Homo sapiens: one gene and its partners. The protein of the gene in region 1 interacts with the protein of each later gene in a biochemical or structural test. Each region holds a gene or a part of one and is shown on either strand. Other genes may lie near its edges.

What was found. Proteins that work in one complex are often made in the same cells at the same time.
Region 2: the proteins of VTN (region 1) and ITGA2B form a complex in vitro, tested with the Homo sapiens proteins (one study listed by BioGRID).
Region 3: the proteins of VTN (region 1) and TGFB2 form a complex in vitro, tested with the Homo sapiens proteins (one study listed by BioGRID).
Region 4: the proteins of VTN (region 1) and EGF form a complex in vitro, tested with the Homo sapiens proteins (one study listed by BioGRID).

The regions. Positions count from the first base shown.
Region 1 is NC_000017.11:28,367,508-28,371,522, forward strand, and holds the start of VTN (vitronectin precursor), read right to left. Parts: upstream 2,801-4,015; 5' UTR 2,697-2,800; coding exon 2,633-2,696; intron 2,540-2,632; coding exon 2,420-2,539; intron 2,345-2,419; coding exon 2,000-2,344; intron 1,922-1,999; coding exon 1,782-1,921; intron 1,522-1,781; coding exon 1,365-1,521; intron 1,167-1,364; coding exon 1,014-1,166; intron 553-1,013; coding exon 208-552; intron 1-207. UniProt on the Homo sapiens protein: Vitronectin is a cell adhesion and spreading factor found in serum and tissues. Vitronectin interact with glycosaminoglycans and proteoglycans. Is recognized by certain members of the integrin family and serves as a cell-to-substrate adhesion molecule.
Region 2 is NC_000017.11:44,376,150-44,379,649, reverse strand, and holds part of ITGA2B (integrin alpha-IIb preproprotein), read left to right. Parts: intron 1-939; coding exon 940-1,007; intron 1,008-1,140; coding exon 1,141-1,288; intron 1,289-1,859; coding exon 1,860-1,952; intron 1,953-2,561; coding exon 2,562-2,641; intron 2,642-3,261; coding exon 3,262-3,342; intron 3,343-3,465; coding exon 3,466-3,500. UniProt on the Homo sapiens protein: Integrin alpha-IIb/beta-3 is a receptor for fibronectin, fibrinogen, plasminogen, prothrombin, thrombospondin and vitronectin. It recognizes the sequence R-G-D in a wide array of ligands.
Region 3 is NC_000001.11:218,407,836-218,411,335, reverse strand, and holds part of TGFB2 (transforming growth factor beta-2 proprotein isoform 2 preproprotein), read right to left. Parts: intron 1-3,500.
Region 4 is NC_000004.12:110,006,883-110,010,382, forward strand, and holds part of EGF (pro-epidermal growth factor isoform 1 preproprotein), read left to right. Parts: intron 1-1,269; coding exon 1,270-1,348; intron 1,349-3,500.

The DNA.
Region 1 (4,015 bases):
GTGAGGCCCAGCCTGGCCCTGCCCACTCTTCCCTTGAGAAGTCTAGGGTCTCTCCCAGAAGGGAAAGTGAACATCCATGATGCAGCTAAGGACTTCTGGCCTGGCTTTCTGTGGTCACTACTTGCAGGCTGCGTTCAGCCCTTGTGCACCAGGGACAGCAAGGAAAACCCAAGCTAGACCAGCTTCAGGGGTGGCAGCGGCTCCTACCTCCAGAGAAGAAGAAGACACTCTGGATGGGTTCACAGGTGGCAGGCACAAGCCAGTCCATCCTGTAGTCATCATAGTTGTTGGCTCCCAAGTTGCTCTCCTCACTGGAGAACAAGGACAGCCACGTGGCGCGGGATGGCCGGCGGGAGTTCTGGTTGCGGCCACGGCTGTGGCCTCGTTGTGAACGGTAGCCTTTGCGGTTGCGATGCCTAAACCTTTGTTTCTTGGCCAAGGAGGGGCGGGGTGCCATGCCTGAGATGTAGATGCGGCCAGCCATGGCTGCGTCCACTTGCCCTGGCACACCGTGCCAGTCCCGGCTAATGAACTGGGGCTGTCTGGTACCAGCTGTGGCAGGGAAGGGGTGAATGAGAGGTCTTGGGGGTCCGAATCTTGCCCCTTCCAGCGGGGCCATTAGAGTTCATCTGCTGCACCTTGCCCAAAGACACACAGCAGCGAATGGCAGAGCCAGGCCTTTGACTCTCAGTCCAATTCCCTTCCCCCTGTGCTTTCCCTCCACCATATCACTGGTGTCTCGACCCCACCCCCCCAGGCCCCCTAAACTCCTCAGCCACAGCCCCTCCCTCTGCTGGCTGTGCTCTCAGCTGTGCTAGGCAAAGTCCAAGGTGTGGGGTCCAGGTAGAGCTGAGCTTTCCCCAAAAGGTCAACAGAAGCAAAGTCTGGCCTGAGCAAACAGACTTTGATCGATAGCTCCACAACCACAGCCCCCTCCAGCCGGCCTGGCTCTACCAATACCAAGGGGTTTCAGCCCTTTTGAGGGAGAAGCAAGACTTGCCCTCTCTCCATACCAGAGGTTCTGCCCCAGAAGAGAAGCTCGAAGATGTCCTCCCAGCTGTCCCGCTGCATCATGGCAAAGTGTTCAAACACAGCCGACAGGGAGCTGCCTTCACACTCCTCCTGACTGGGCTGGTGCTGGAACTGGTACTCCCAGTACTGTTTCCCTGAGGAGCAGGGTGGTGGGCATTAGGAGGGCTGGGCCAGGGCAAGACTGGAGATCCCAGAGGCTGTTGAAGTTAGGATCTCCCAGCATGAGGTGGGGGTCAGGGGTGGGCACATGCTGAGGCCTGTCCCCAGTGAAATGTGAAAGGAATCCAAGACTGCTCCACTGCCTGCTCAGTCTCCCACCACCCCCTGAGTACCCTTGAAGAAGTAGACCCGCTCCCGGCCACTGTAGCTATGGGCAGGGAGGGCCAAGGCTGCATCCACGTTGTCCGGGATGCCATCGAAGCCGTCAGAGATATTTCGGGGGTAATCAGGGTCCAGGACACCATCCTCAAAGCGCCAGTACTGACTACCCTAAGAGGTGGGGAAAGTGAAAAGGGGTATGGAGGCCGCTGGCTGGGCACAGAGGCAGAGTCCCTTGCCCTAAGGCAGCCGTTCCCAGGTCCAGGTTCACTGCCCAGGACCTGGAGTCTTGGGGCTGCCCTGTGCTCACAGAGCTCCCACCAGGTCCTGCAGGGCCCTGGGTCCAGCTTCCCTGTCCACCCTGTCCCTGGGAGCAATAGCTCTCAAACCCTCCCTAGATGCTTTCTACCCTGGCCCACAGCCCCTGGCACCTTGAAGAGGTAGGTCTTCCCCTGACAGTTGATGCGGGTGAAGGCGGCATCGATGGGGCCCTCGATGCCCCAGACATCTCGGATGAGCTTGGGGTACCCAGGCCTCACTGCCTTTTCGTCCAGTTCATAGCAGTACTGCCCTAGAGTGGAGGAGATGGTGTGAGAGCAGGGACGCTCCTGGGGCAGACCCGCATCCCCAGTACCTGCCCTGGATTCACCTCGGAAGGCAAAGAGGGAACCGTTCTTGAGGTCGGTGAAGGCGTCGAAGGGCTTCCCACTGCACAGCTCCTCCTCTGCTGGGGGCTGAGGTCTCCCTGGATGAAGGGTCTCAGGCCTTGAGTCTATCCCCTCAGGCTTAGAGGCGCCCACCTCAGGCGCAGGGGCCTCTTCCTCAGGTTTCAGAACAGGTGTCTGCTCAGGATTCCCTTTGGACTGGGCCTGGAGGTCAGAGGTCAGGGAGGGGCCCCCCACCTGTTCATGGACAGTGGCATTGTTTTTCTCCTCGCCATCGTCATAGACCGTGTACTCATCCTCCGGCATAGTGAACACATCCCCGCGAGTCACTGCAGAGAGTGGATGGTAGTGAGTCTCCAGCAGCAGGGGGCACCCCAGCCCACCCACCTGGGCTCTGAACACACCTTGGGGCTTGCACTCAGCCGTATAGTCTGTGCAGCAGCTCTGGTAGTAAGAGCAGAGCTCGTCACACTGGCACTTCTTGTCCACGTTGAAGCCCTCAGTGCAGCGGCCCTTGCATGACTCTATGAGGAAGGAGTGTCAGTCGGTGCCACCAAGCCCAGACCACCCTCGCCCTCCCTACATTGACCCAGATGGCCACCAACACTCCCCTGTACCTTGGTCAGCCAGAGCAACCCATGCCAGCAGGGCCAGTATGAGAAGGGGTCTCAGGGGTGCCATGGCAGGGCTTCTAGCTCAGTGCCTGGCAAGCTGGGCTCTGGTCTCCCTGAAGTCTCCGCTCTGATGCCTGAGGAAGGGAGGGAGAGGCAGAGACAGGGAAGGAGGGCACTGGAGAAGAGGAACTGCCTTTTCTGCTGCTCTGTTTGCTCAACCTCCAGCCCATCCCCTCTGCCCCCTCCAGCGGCTGCTGCAGCAAAGGTCACATTCCTGGAACACTGGGCCTGGGCGAGCTGGGAGATAAGACCTTTGCCAAGCTCAGAATCATTAGGTCATCGGAAGGGGAATTAGCACCGTGGATCTGGAGGGCAGAAAGAAGGCTCATTGGGCAACAGCTTTATCTCTCTGAGTCTTAGTTCATTTTCAGTAAAATAGGATTAACAAAGCCTTGCTTCATGGGGTGTTGGGAGATTACATGAACTGGACCAGACAAAATGCCCAGTAGCTGGAGCAGCCACAAATTCCTTCTCCAAACATAGCTATTGATCCATGATTGTTTGATCAGACACATCCCTGGCTGGGTGCTCATTCGCCATTATTTATTTAGGGCAGGAAAAAGGGAGTGGGAGGAGAGATTGTAAGCACTCTGGGGAATTTTATTTTTTAGCATAAAAGAACAAAGTTTCATTTCTGGGTTCTTCTCTTGGGTGCATCAATCTCCCCAGGCTGGAAATTTGGGTAAATATCAACCCACTGGACTGGATTTAATTTCTGAGTCTTTTCTGAGCAGGCCACTCCCTGTCCCCAGGCTCAGTCTCCCCATCTGTAAAGAGTGGGCTTGTTCAACACACTTTTAGACTCTCGAGAGAAATATGATCCCTCTACCTGGAAAATGCCCACTGGCATGAAACACCTGATTTTGTGCCCAATTTCAGGTGTCCACAGAACTTCTGAAATCCTCCCATCACCTGAAAAAAGTGATCCTGAGATTTTAGCTGACTTTTTCTGTTCTGTAATCAGAGGGGACTGTGATTTGGGCCAATTTCTTCCTCATGGGCTTCAGTGGAGTCAGCTGTGGAATGGAACATCAATTCCCACCCCATAGGCATGTTGTGAGGTTTCGCTAAGAAACAGCCATAAAAGGGCCTTAAGAGTTATGATGATTGTTTTAACCATTTAGTAGGGAGGGGGCATCCAGCGGTGTTGCTCCCACGTACCGATGTCACGTGGGGCGGGGAGGCGGGGCGGAGAACGGAGAGCGTCCTCTCATTCTCCACCCCCTTCCTCCAAGTCCAGCGCAGGGGGAGGTGGCTGCGACTGACTGAGGGGCTAGGGAAGGCTGGCCAGGGGCGTGGGCGTGGCTGGGGACGGCTTGGGGGTGG
Region 2 (3,500 bases), about 16 Mb from region 1:
CCTGATAGCAAATCAGGATTAGGGTTAGTGCCAAGTCACAATGTGAACCCCAAAACCTTGATGTCATTCCAAACCCTAATGAAAACCTCAAAATCCAGCCAGTCATGGTGGCTCACACCTGTAATCCCAGCACTTTGGGAGACCGAGGCAGGCAGATTGCCTGAGGTCAGGAGTTAGAGACCAACCTGGCCAACATGGTGAAAACCCATCTCTACTAAAAATACAAAAAAAATTAGCCGGGTGTGGTGACGCATGCCTGTAATTCCAGCTACTCGGGAGGCTGAAGCAGGAGAATCACTTGAACCCAGGAGGCAGAGGTTGCAGTGAGCCAAGAGTGTGCCACAGCACTCCAGCCTGGGTGACAGAGCAAGACTCTGTCTCAAAAAAAAAAAAAAAAGCCAGGCGCAGTGGCTCACGCCTGTAATCCCAGCACTTTGGGAGGCCAAGGCGGGTGGATCACGAGGTCAGGAGATCAAGACCATCCTGGCTAACACAGTGAAACCCCGTCTACTAAAAATACAAAAAAAAAAAAAAAATTAGCTGGGCGTGGTGGCGGGTACCTGTAGTCCCAGCTACTTGGGAGGCTGAGGCAGGAGAATGGCGTGAACCCCGGGGGGCGGAGCTTGCAGTGAGCCGAGATAGTGCCACTGCACTCCAGCCTGGACGACAGAGCGAGACTCCGTCTCCAAAAATAAAATAAACACCTGAAAATCCCAGTATCCCCTAAGCTCTGATGTAAATTGACAAACCCTGACATTGTCCCAAACCTCCAAATAAACCCGAGCCCCGATACCATCTACAAACTCCTTTTCGTCCTCAGATCTTCTTACTCCCTAAGCCCCTATGTGAACCCCAAGCCCACTGTTTTCCTAACCCTGATGTAATCCCTAAACCTCACACATCCCCAACTTACCCGCACACCCCAATGTGCCCCTCTAGACACGAATCGTCCTGGACTGTGGGGAAGATGACGTATGTGTGCCCCAGCTTCAGCTCACTGCCAGCGTGTGAGGAGGCCTCCCATTCTGCCCGACCCTGGCCCTTTCTGCCTATCATACCTGCTCCACACCTTAGTCCCCTCTTTTCCCACATCCTGGGCCCAGACCCAGGCTCCCTGGCTTCACTCCTCTTTCCCCACAGGACGGGCTCCCCGCTCCTAGTTGGGGCAGATAATGTCCTGGAGCTGCAGATGGACGCAGCCAACGAGGGCGAGGGGGCCTATGAAGCAGAGCTGGCCGTGCACCTGCCCCAGGGCGCCCACTACATGCGGGCCCTAAGCAATGTCGAGGTATGGCCCCCACCCTGGGAACAGTACCCGGGACCTGGGAGGCACTGGAGCCTTGGCTCTCTCATCTCCCTCCCTGAGAGTCCCTCTTCTCTTCTGCTTTGCTGTCAAAGATGTAATTTTTTATTTTTTTTTTAATTTGGAGGAGGAATACTTGCTAATGGCACAGAATTCCAAAACTCTATTACAAAAACCAGAAAAACAAAAAAGGTTTAGGAACCAAATGTTAACAGGAACCTCTGTTAACATTTGGTGGATTTCCTTCCAGTCTTTTTTTCAATATTGACTCACACTCACATAAGTATATATTTATTTTTTATGTTGTTAATATAGTTTATAATAATGGGGGTCATACTCTAATGTTTTGTGTTTTTTATTTCCAAAATGAAAATGCCTAAAAAGTAGTAGTGCTACAGCAATACACACACTAGCATGTGACAGTCCCTTGAGACCCCACCCCAAGAAACCCCCCCCTCCCTACCTTGGCACACAAATCTTTCCAGACCTTCCAAGGGAGCTTAAATATATATATATGATGCTCTGTAATTTCTTTCTTGGAACTGCCTTCCTGAAGGGCTTTGAGAGACTCATCTGTAATCAGAAGAAGGAGAATGAGACCAGGGTGGTGCTGTGTGAGCTGGGCAACCCCATGAAGAAGAACGCCCAGGTGAGGCTGCTGGGTCGTGGTACCGGGTCTCCACCAGGGGCTCATGAATAACCAGATTTTAGGGGTGAGGTTTTAGAGCCACATAGTTCTGGGCCAGAATCTTGGTCCTCACACTCCCTTGCCACATGTCCTTGGGTGAGTGACTTTCCCTCTCTGAGCCCCTTTACCCAGTGGGCTTCCAGGTAAAATAGAAATAATAATGGTGGCCTGGTGCGGTGGCTCACGCCTGTAATCCCAGCACTCTGGGAGGCCGAGACGGGTGGATCACGAGGTCAGGAGTTCAAGACCAGCCTGGCCAACATAGCAAAACCCCGTCTCTACTAAAAATACAAAAATTACCCGGGCATGGTGGCGCACGCCTATAGTCAGAGCTACTCGGGAGGTTGAGGCAGAAAAATCACTTGAACCTGGGAGGTGGAGGTTGCAGTGAGCCGAGATCATGCCACTGCACTCCAGCCTGGGTGACAGAGTGAGACTCCGTCTCGGAAAAAAAAAAAAAGAAAAAGAATAGTGGTGATCTTGGAGGGTGAAGACTGGAGGCCACATTCAGGGCAGGGCTGTCCTAAGTGGGGCACTTGGGCAGTGACCTTGGCCCTCCTCATCTCCCAGATAGGAATCGCGATGTTGGTGAGCGTGGGGAATCTGGAAGAGGCTGGGGAGTCTGTGTCCTTCCAGCTGCAGATACGGAGGTACTGACCTGGCGAGCGTGCCTACCCACCACCCTTCCCCCGTCTGACCCCCGTGCAGAGCCCCTCAGGTCCCTTCCATACAGAAGGGTCTTTCGAGGCCAGGCGCAGTGGCTCACACCTGTAATCCCAGCACGTTGCGAGGCCAAGGCAGAAGGATCACTGGAGGTCAGGAGTTGGAGACCAGCCTGGCCAACATGGTGAAACCCCATCTCTACTAAAAATATAAAAATTAGCTGGGCATGGTGGTGCGCACCTACAATCCCAGCTACTCGGGAGGCTGAGGCAGGAGAATAGCTTGAACCGAACCTGGGAGGTGGAGGTTGCAGTGAGCTGAGATTGGGCCACTGCACTCCAGCCTTCCAGCCTGGGCGACAGTGCGAGATTCTATCTCAAAAGAAAAAAAAAAAGGTCTTTGAAGAAGCCTGGTTCCCTTTCTTCCTCAGAGATTTATGTCTGAGTCTTGGAGCCCTAGAGGAAGTTCTTTCCCAGGTCTAACTTCAGTGTGGCATGCTCTTTGTATAATTAGCTCTCTCTGAACTCTCTAAAATTCTGGCCTCACCCCCAGAAAGTCACTGGGCTGGTGTCCCTGGCCCTGTTTCTCCTCATCCCCTCCCCTCTAGCAAGAACAGCCAGAATCCAAACAGCAAGATTGTGCTGCTGGACGTGCCGGTCCGGGCAGAGGCCCAAGTGGAGCTGCGAGGGTGAGAGGCCAGGGGTGGAGAAGGGAGATGGCATTCAGGGCTCTAAACTCCAGGGGGCGCTGGGGAAACCTCACAGGCCAATCAGGGCATCACACTCTCTCTGGGGGTCTTGGGCACCTGCAGGAACTCCTTTCCAGCCTCCCTGGTGGTGGCAGCAG
Region 3 (3,500 bases), on another chromosome or scaffold:
GCCACATGGAGCAAGACAATATCCAGCCAAGCTCTGATGAAATTTCTGACCCACAAAAACTTGTGAAGTATAACAAAATGATTATTATTTGAGGCCACAACATTTTGAAGCTTGTTGTGCAGCAAATAGATAACCCAGACAGTGGTATGAATCATACTATTCTGGAGGTGGTAAGGTTTTAAATGAGAAATGACTATTGAAAGGGTGTGAGTTGGTGAGAAGAAACTAGAAATACTGGAGAGCTCCAAGTCCTCTGAGGTTAGCAAATTTAAATATAAGTATTCTTTGGTGGTCCCAAAGGATTGTTTAGGGCCATGAAGTTATGGGTACCCTTAGATATGTCATTAAGTTCCCCAAGCATTTCTTCATGTGTAAAATGGGGATTTATCCAACTCCAAGACAGCAGGTGTTCTTGCCCATATAGAAGATGTTCAACTTGAAGAGAATTCTCCTTCCTATTTTCTTTCCCTCTACCTCATACTTCTGGTCATGATTTTAATCATACATACAGGGGAAACTTAATCAAAGAAAGGTGTGTTCAAATTTACAAATGGGCTGAGAGCTATAACAACTATCATGGGTTTGAATGCATTCCTAGAGCACTGGAGTTTTGTCTGAACATATCGCAATAAAGGCTGCCTTTGGCATAAAGCTTTAAAAATATGGCAAAGATCGTTACTATCTAAAAACAGTTGTTTTTCATCTTTGTTTTCTCCTCTTTCCCTTCATCTTTCAGACACTTTATCCCTCTCATATTCCCTCCATTATTGGTATACATGGGAAGCCTATCTTGATCACACCAGTAGATGCTATTTAGAGTTTGTTAACGTGAAAGAGGTTAGAGAAAGCAGGAAAGAAAGATTTTATTTTCCTATCATTCATTAATATTCTGACACACTGTTCTGTAGAGAGGGGAGGGTAATGAAAATCGTAAGTTCACAAGCTTTCAGGTTTAAACAAGCTCAGAGTGACTTCAACAGAAGCATGGGTTTCCTAACTATCCCAGGTGGAGAGAAACAATAGACCTTCGCAGCTCTGGACAAGACAAACCCTGAACTCATGTATAGAATTGTTATCCTACGTCCATCCAGCCTCATATTGTGACTCTAAAAAGAATACCTGGCGGCATTTTTATGAGACAGAATGACTCAAAACTCTTGGGCTATATTTTAAATCTGCGAATTCCAATTGGAAGATCCAAATCTGAACAATCACACATGTGAGTCACCAGGAGAGCTCTTTGAAACCAACATCTGTGCCGAGGCAACTCTCATTTTCCTTTCCAGGGAAAATCAGAATCCCCTTGAAGGAAACTGTGGTTAGTCTTCGTAAAAGCTCCCCCAGGGATTCCAAACCTGGTGGAGTGCCTATGCTCACATGTAAGTTCACAGGCACGTGTGCACACATGTACACACATACATACTCTCCTCCTACTGAACATCAGTGTCCTGAAGAGTCCTAATAAATAATCCAAACAACCATGTAAACGACCTGAGAACCTTTTCATAGTCACCCTGTTTTCCTCTAGGGATTAGGATGCCAATTGTGTGTCAAGTAGTACAGTAATCAAAGGGTATCCAAGAACTTCAAAGGTTTTGTTCTTCTGAAGAGCTGAGCTTTCCAAATAGCTGAAGATCTGCCCATTTAAGCATCAAATCTGTTTTTTTTTTCCAAAATAATATTTCAGCAATTTTGGATGTGAAACTCTGTAAAATTTATTGCATGTGTTCAGTTTCCTGACTATAATTTAGCCTCATCTTCATAATTCAAGGTTATTACCATCGGCATCAATTCCTGTAATAGGACTAGAGATGGGAGTTTATTACCAAAGACTACAAAGACCTCCAAATGGCAGCCGGAGACAAAAGGAAAGTTGGAGAACACCATACTAAAAATAGGACTCCAAATAAAGAGGCCAGAAGCAAAAGTCAGAAGCCAGACAGGAAGCCAAAGAGATAAAGAGTGGGTTAACTATAAACAGGGTAAGATTCAGAAAACTTGTCCACAACAGGCATTGCTTCTGTGGTCTGATTATCTGAGATAGCGTTACTGTGATACAGTGGTAAAAATCTTTAGTCTAAAGCAGAAGTCCCCAACCTGGACGGTACAGGTCCATGGCCCATCAGGAGCCGGGCCGCACAGCAGGAGGTGAGCAGCAGGCAAGCAAGCAAAGCTTCATCTGTGTTTACAGCCACTCCCCATTGCTTGCAGTACTGCCTGAGCTCCACCTCCTGTCAGATTAGCGGCGGCATTAGATTCTCAAAGGAGCAAGAACCCTATTGTGAACTGCACGTGCTAGGGATCTAGGTTGCACGCTCCTTATGATAATCAAATGCCTGATGATCGGACACTGTCTCCCATCACTGCCAGATGGGACCATATATAGTTGCAGGAAAACAAGCTCAGCGCTCCCACTGATTCTATATTATGGTGAGTTGTATAATTATTTCATTATATATTACAATGAAATAAAGTGCACAATAAAAGTAATGCTCTGTGGAAAAATTGTATTCCACAAAACTGGTCCCTGGTGCCAAAAAGGCTGGGGACTGCTGGTCTAAAGGACCTGCTGTTGATGTCACGGTGTCCTCCTCTAGCCCTCCTCTTTTAATTCAGTGCTTCTAATTTCTTCTGGCCCTACAGATAGTCAAACTAGTTGAAGCAATAAAAGACAAGAGGCTGCCTTTCTGATCCATCAAAAGTGTGTGTGAGTTGTCTTCTCTTCGGGTGTTCAAGGATCTCTTTGACTTGCTCTCTGGACCTTGTCTGTGCTTCAGGAGTTGTATAGCTGAGCCCCAGAAAGATAAAAAAATTGCTATTATTTTATATTTTTCTGCTAGAATCTTCTTCTTCCAGATGCCCGTGTATAGTGACAGTGAACGTGCCCATGCTTCTCCAAACTAAAAGCTTCCATCTTGGGCCGTTCCTCTTTCAAGCGTGGGACTCTAAGCCATGCACATCATGTCACTTGCGTCATGGAGCAGCCGGTGCTTCAGAAACCTCTGAGGCACATCTACCAAGAACTCACTAAGGTCCTCTAAGTTGCCAGCCTCAAGAGAAACACCCTTTCCTGGAGATGGGATGGGCCCTGGGAGGAAAAAAGCCATTGGCAAGCCTGCTGGCAGAGGCTACTCCTCAGAGGACAGGGTCAAGGGGCCACAGAAAAATAGGGACTTAGCAGCTTCCATTACAGGTAACAGGACCTAGGTGACCCTGCCTCCAATTTACTGAAGCCATGTAACTAAAGTAGGGCCAAAGAGAGCAACCTATGATGCTATCGTCAGCAAAGAAGGAAATTTAAGGGTGATTTAATTGGTAAAAAAGAGAAGAAAAAGGAGATATAATCATGTTTTTTGTTTGTTTGTTTAAATCATCTTGTAATTTATCTGGCTACCCTTAATCTGGCTTTTTTTCATAGGAACCAGTTTTTGCTTCCCCTCCAAATATTACTTCATCCTCTAGCCTAGTTTGTCTTATTATTCTTCTATTCTGGCTGATCC
Region 4 (3,500 bases), on another chromosome or scaffold:
AGAAGAAAGAGCAGAAACAAATGTAGTTCTATCAGCTCCTTTCCCCACCTCAGCCCAGAATTTCGGGACCTATGTTCTTCTGACAGAGAGGCACGAGGTTAGAAAATTTGCAGTGCAGAGGGTTGGATTTTGACTTGAGACAGAAATAATGGGCATGTGTCTTTAAACAGTGGGTTGCGTGTTGATTTTGCAGTGTGTTGCTGCAGGAGATCATCAATGAGGAGGAGATGAAGCATGATTTGTATTATAAGAAAATGAAAATACATGTTCTGTGGATTCACACTTCCCTTACCAACATTTCCCTGCCTTCTGCCTAATTGACCCCAGTCATCATCCCTTTCTACACCTTTCTCAAAGGAAAATATGGGCAAAGAGATTGTTTTCTACTCCTCTTTCTGTTGTTTCTGAGTTGTGTGCTCCTTTCTGTGGAGCGCCCATTTCTGAACCAATGAAGCGTGATCGGCCAAAACCTTGGGGCAGTCCTTGCACTAGTTACTGATTGACAAGGAAGGACTTCACCAAATGATGTCCTTTGTCCTGTTGTATGGGGTCACTTCTTTTCTTTCCTTGTAGCATGGATCTGTTTTAATATCTAATCTATCTAGAGTGAATGTGAGCCAGTGAACTCTGGTCAGCCTGCATTGCAAGTGCCCAATCAATTTTTGATAATACAAATAATGACAAAAGTAATCATTTTGTTGACTGAAGAGAAATGTTGTTTTCTGTTCCTTCCTATTAAAATTCTAGGTCCCTAGGCTGTTCAACCAGCTTGCAAAATTGTCATTGCACTGGTAATTATTACTACCTTTAATGGCCCCAAATTACTCAGAACTTGGTAGCATGTTTAAATGAGTGTTATTAATGTGTGTGTGCGTGTGTGTGTATGAAAAGTTGTAGCACACACATATATTAGATATTATTTGCCTGGCCTATGGGCAGTTCTTAGAATACTTATGGATTCTTGGATTGCTTATGGTAAATCAGTGGCTCCAGGGATCCGTGACCTAAAAGCTGAGATTCCATAATTAGAATAGATTCTTCAGTTAACATATTGGTGTGCCTAGTTGCTTTAAGACAAAGTAACACAAGGCTCCTCACTGAATGTTGAATCTCTCTTTAGATAGAAAGACTAACTTCACAGGGCCTTTCTTCTGACTTTCACTTTCCATAGGATGAACATCGTAAAGCCATAGACTTTGATTCAATGTACGTTGAGATAATTTGTGAATTTTAACAATATCCTCTCTCCCTCCTTTTTGTTGTCTGCAGTTTGTGGTTATAAAAGAACACCAAGACCTCAAGAATGGGGGTCAACCAGTGGCTGGTGAGGATGGCCAGGCAGCAGATGGTCAGTTTTTATCCCTGGCTCCTGGTGAATGGTTATTTTTACTTAGATCCTGACTGTTTTTCAATGAAAAGTCTCATTTAACCACACACACACACACAAACAAAATAACTAAATTGTATAAGCTATGTGAATAGCTGGGCTGTATTGAAATGCCATGGACCTGATTTGCACTGGAGTTCTATCTTATATGAGGTTACCACGTTCACTCAAAACTCTAGTCACAGGGCAGCCCGTGTTCTTGCACTTTGAGCAAGAACACAATGGATGACTCCTTGATTTGAATTGAGTTTTGGGGTCATTCTTAAGGTCCAGGATCTATACTGGTAGCTGTAGGTATAGTCCCAGTTAAGTTGTAAATGGCTCCAAGAAAACATGTTCCATGTTCAGCCCATCTAGTGGGAAGTGTTTCTGTAAATTTAAGTTGATCTGAGGATTGTCCTGGGGATTTCAGAGTATTCAGGTCTTATCAGGGGCATGACCTTAGCCAGACGCCTGGCTGTCTGTGAAGTCCAGCCAAGCCACTTGTGGAGAGACCATAAAATCAACCCAGGTTCTCAGGAACTCAGTCTACTTCAGATAGAAATGAACTCAGATACCCTTAAGAGTTGTATTATGATCAGCCTTTTGGTTTTGGGTCTCAGGTTGAGTTTTGTTTCACAGGCCAGAGGACATTGTTTCACAGGCCTTTGTGTCGTGAGCCTTTGGAAAGGTTTAGAGAAACTTTTAGCCAACAAAAACAGCTCCTCTGCTAATGAAAGGAGCTAATGAAATATCAACTCCAATTGAATTTTCTATATTTTTCCTTCTTCAATGTGCTTATTATCATAACCTCCTCCTCAGATTTCTTTCTGGAAAGAACATAGGCTTCTTGTTTTGGAAAACTCACTCTAAATTCCCTTCTCATACCTATGTTGCCATGAAACCCCAAATACTGAATTCAGTACAACTTTATTACCTAATTTGAAGAAGGCCTGGATATTTAAGGTACACTTAAAAATTGAATATGAAAACTACAATAAATAGTATAGTATTTTATATGGATCATTACTTTCCCCTGATAATGAAAAAATTCAGCATTTTCAAAAATTTGCTTCAGTGCTTATTGTTATTGGTAGCACTATTAAAAAGTAATGGAATATTTGTAGTTACTACTTTTCCTTGAGCAGCTAAAAGTGCATAATTCTTACAATGGTAACCCACTATAGAGGCACATATAATGTAATTTTGCAAGCTAATAGCACAACGATTTTACAGGAATTTGGTTAAACTTAGAAAAGAACTAAGGACTCATTACAGTTAGCTGAGTACTCAGGAATATATTAGAATGTCTCTTTTGCTGTTGTTTTTTTCCCCCCGCACTGTACTGCAAACAATTTGACCCATTCTCTGTGGGCCACTCATATAACTATCTCCCAGCATGAGTGATCACATCCCCAATCATGTCCAGCTGTCTCATAAATGCCTGGGGTGAAAATGCGCATAGAGATTGGGGTGGGGGGAGATTGAGTGAGGAATGAAATAAAAGATCAAGTTTGGCTCTGAGCCAGTCTCTTCTCTGCTCCTGGAAAACTCATTACAACACAATACTAGTGTAGTTCCATAAAACCATCTTCACTGAGCTCAGCTGACATCAGTTGACACAGGTTAAGTGCAGAGTACATGCTAGGGGCAGCTGACTATGCCAGGGGAAAAGAAAAGAAATACACCTAAAATCTGAATTCAGACCAGGCACAGTGGCTCACACCTGTAATCCGAGCACTTTGGGAGGCCAAGGTGGGCAGATCATTTGAGGTCAGGAGTTTGAGACCAGCCTGTCTCTACCAAATGAGACCAGCCTGTCTCTATGGTGGAACGCTGTCTCTACCAAAAAGTACAAAAATTAGCCTGGCATGCTGGTGCACACCTGTAGTCCCAGCTACTCAGGAGGCTGAGGTAGGAGGATCCCTTGAGCCTGGGAGATGGAGGTTGCAGTGAGCTGAGATCTCAACACTGCACTCCAGTGAGACTCCATCTCAAAACAAAGATAGAGACTCCATCTCAAAAACAAAAAACAAAAAACCTGAGCTCTATCTACTCTCAAGTCATTTGTGGTCCAGATGGGGAGACAGAAGTACACAGTAAAAGCTAAAGAGCAATGTGTCAGGTTCTTTAA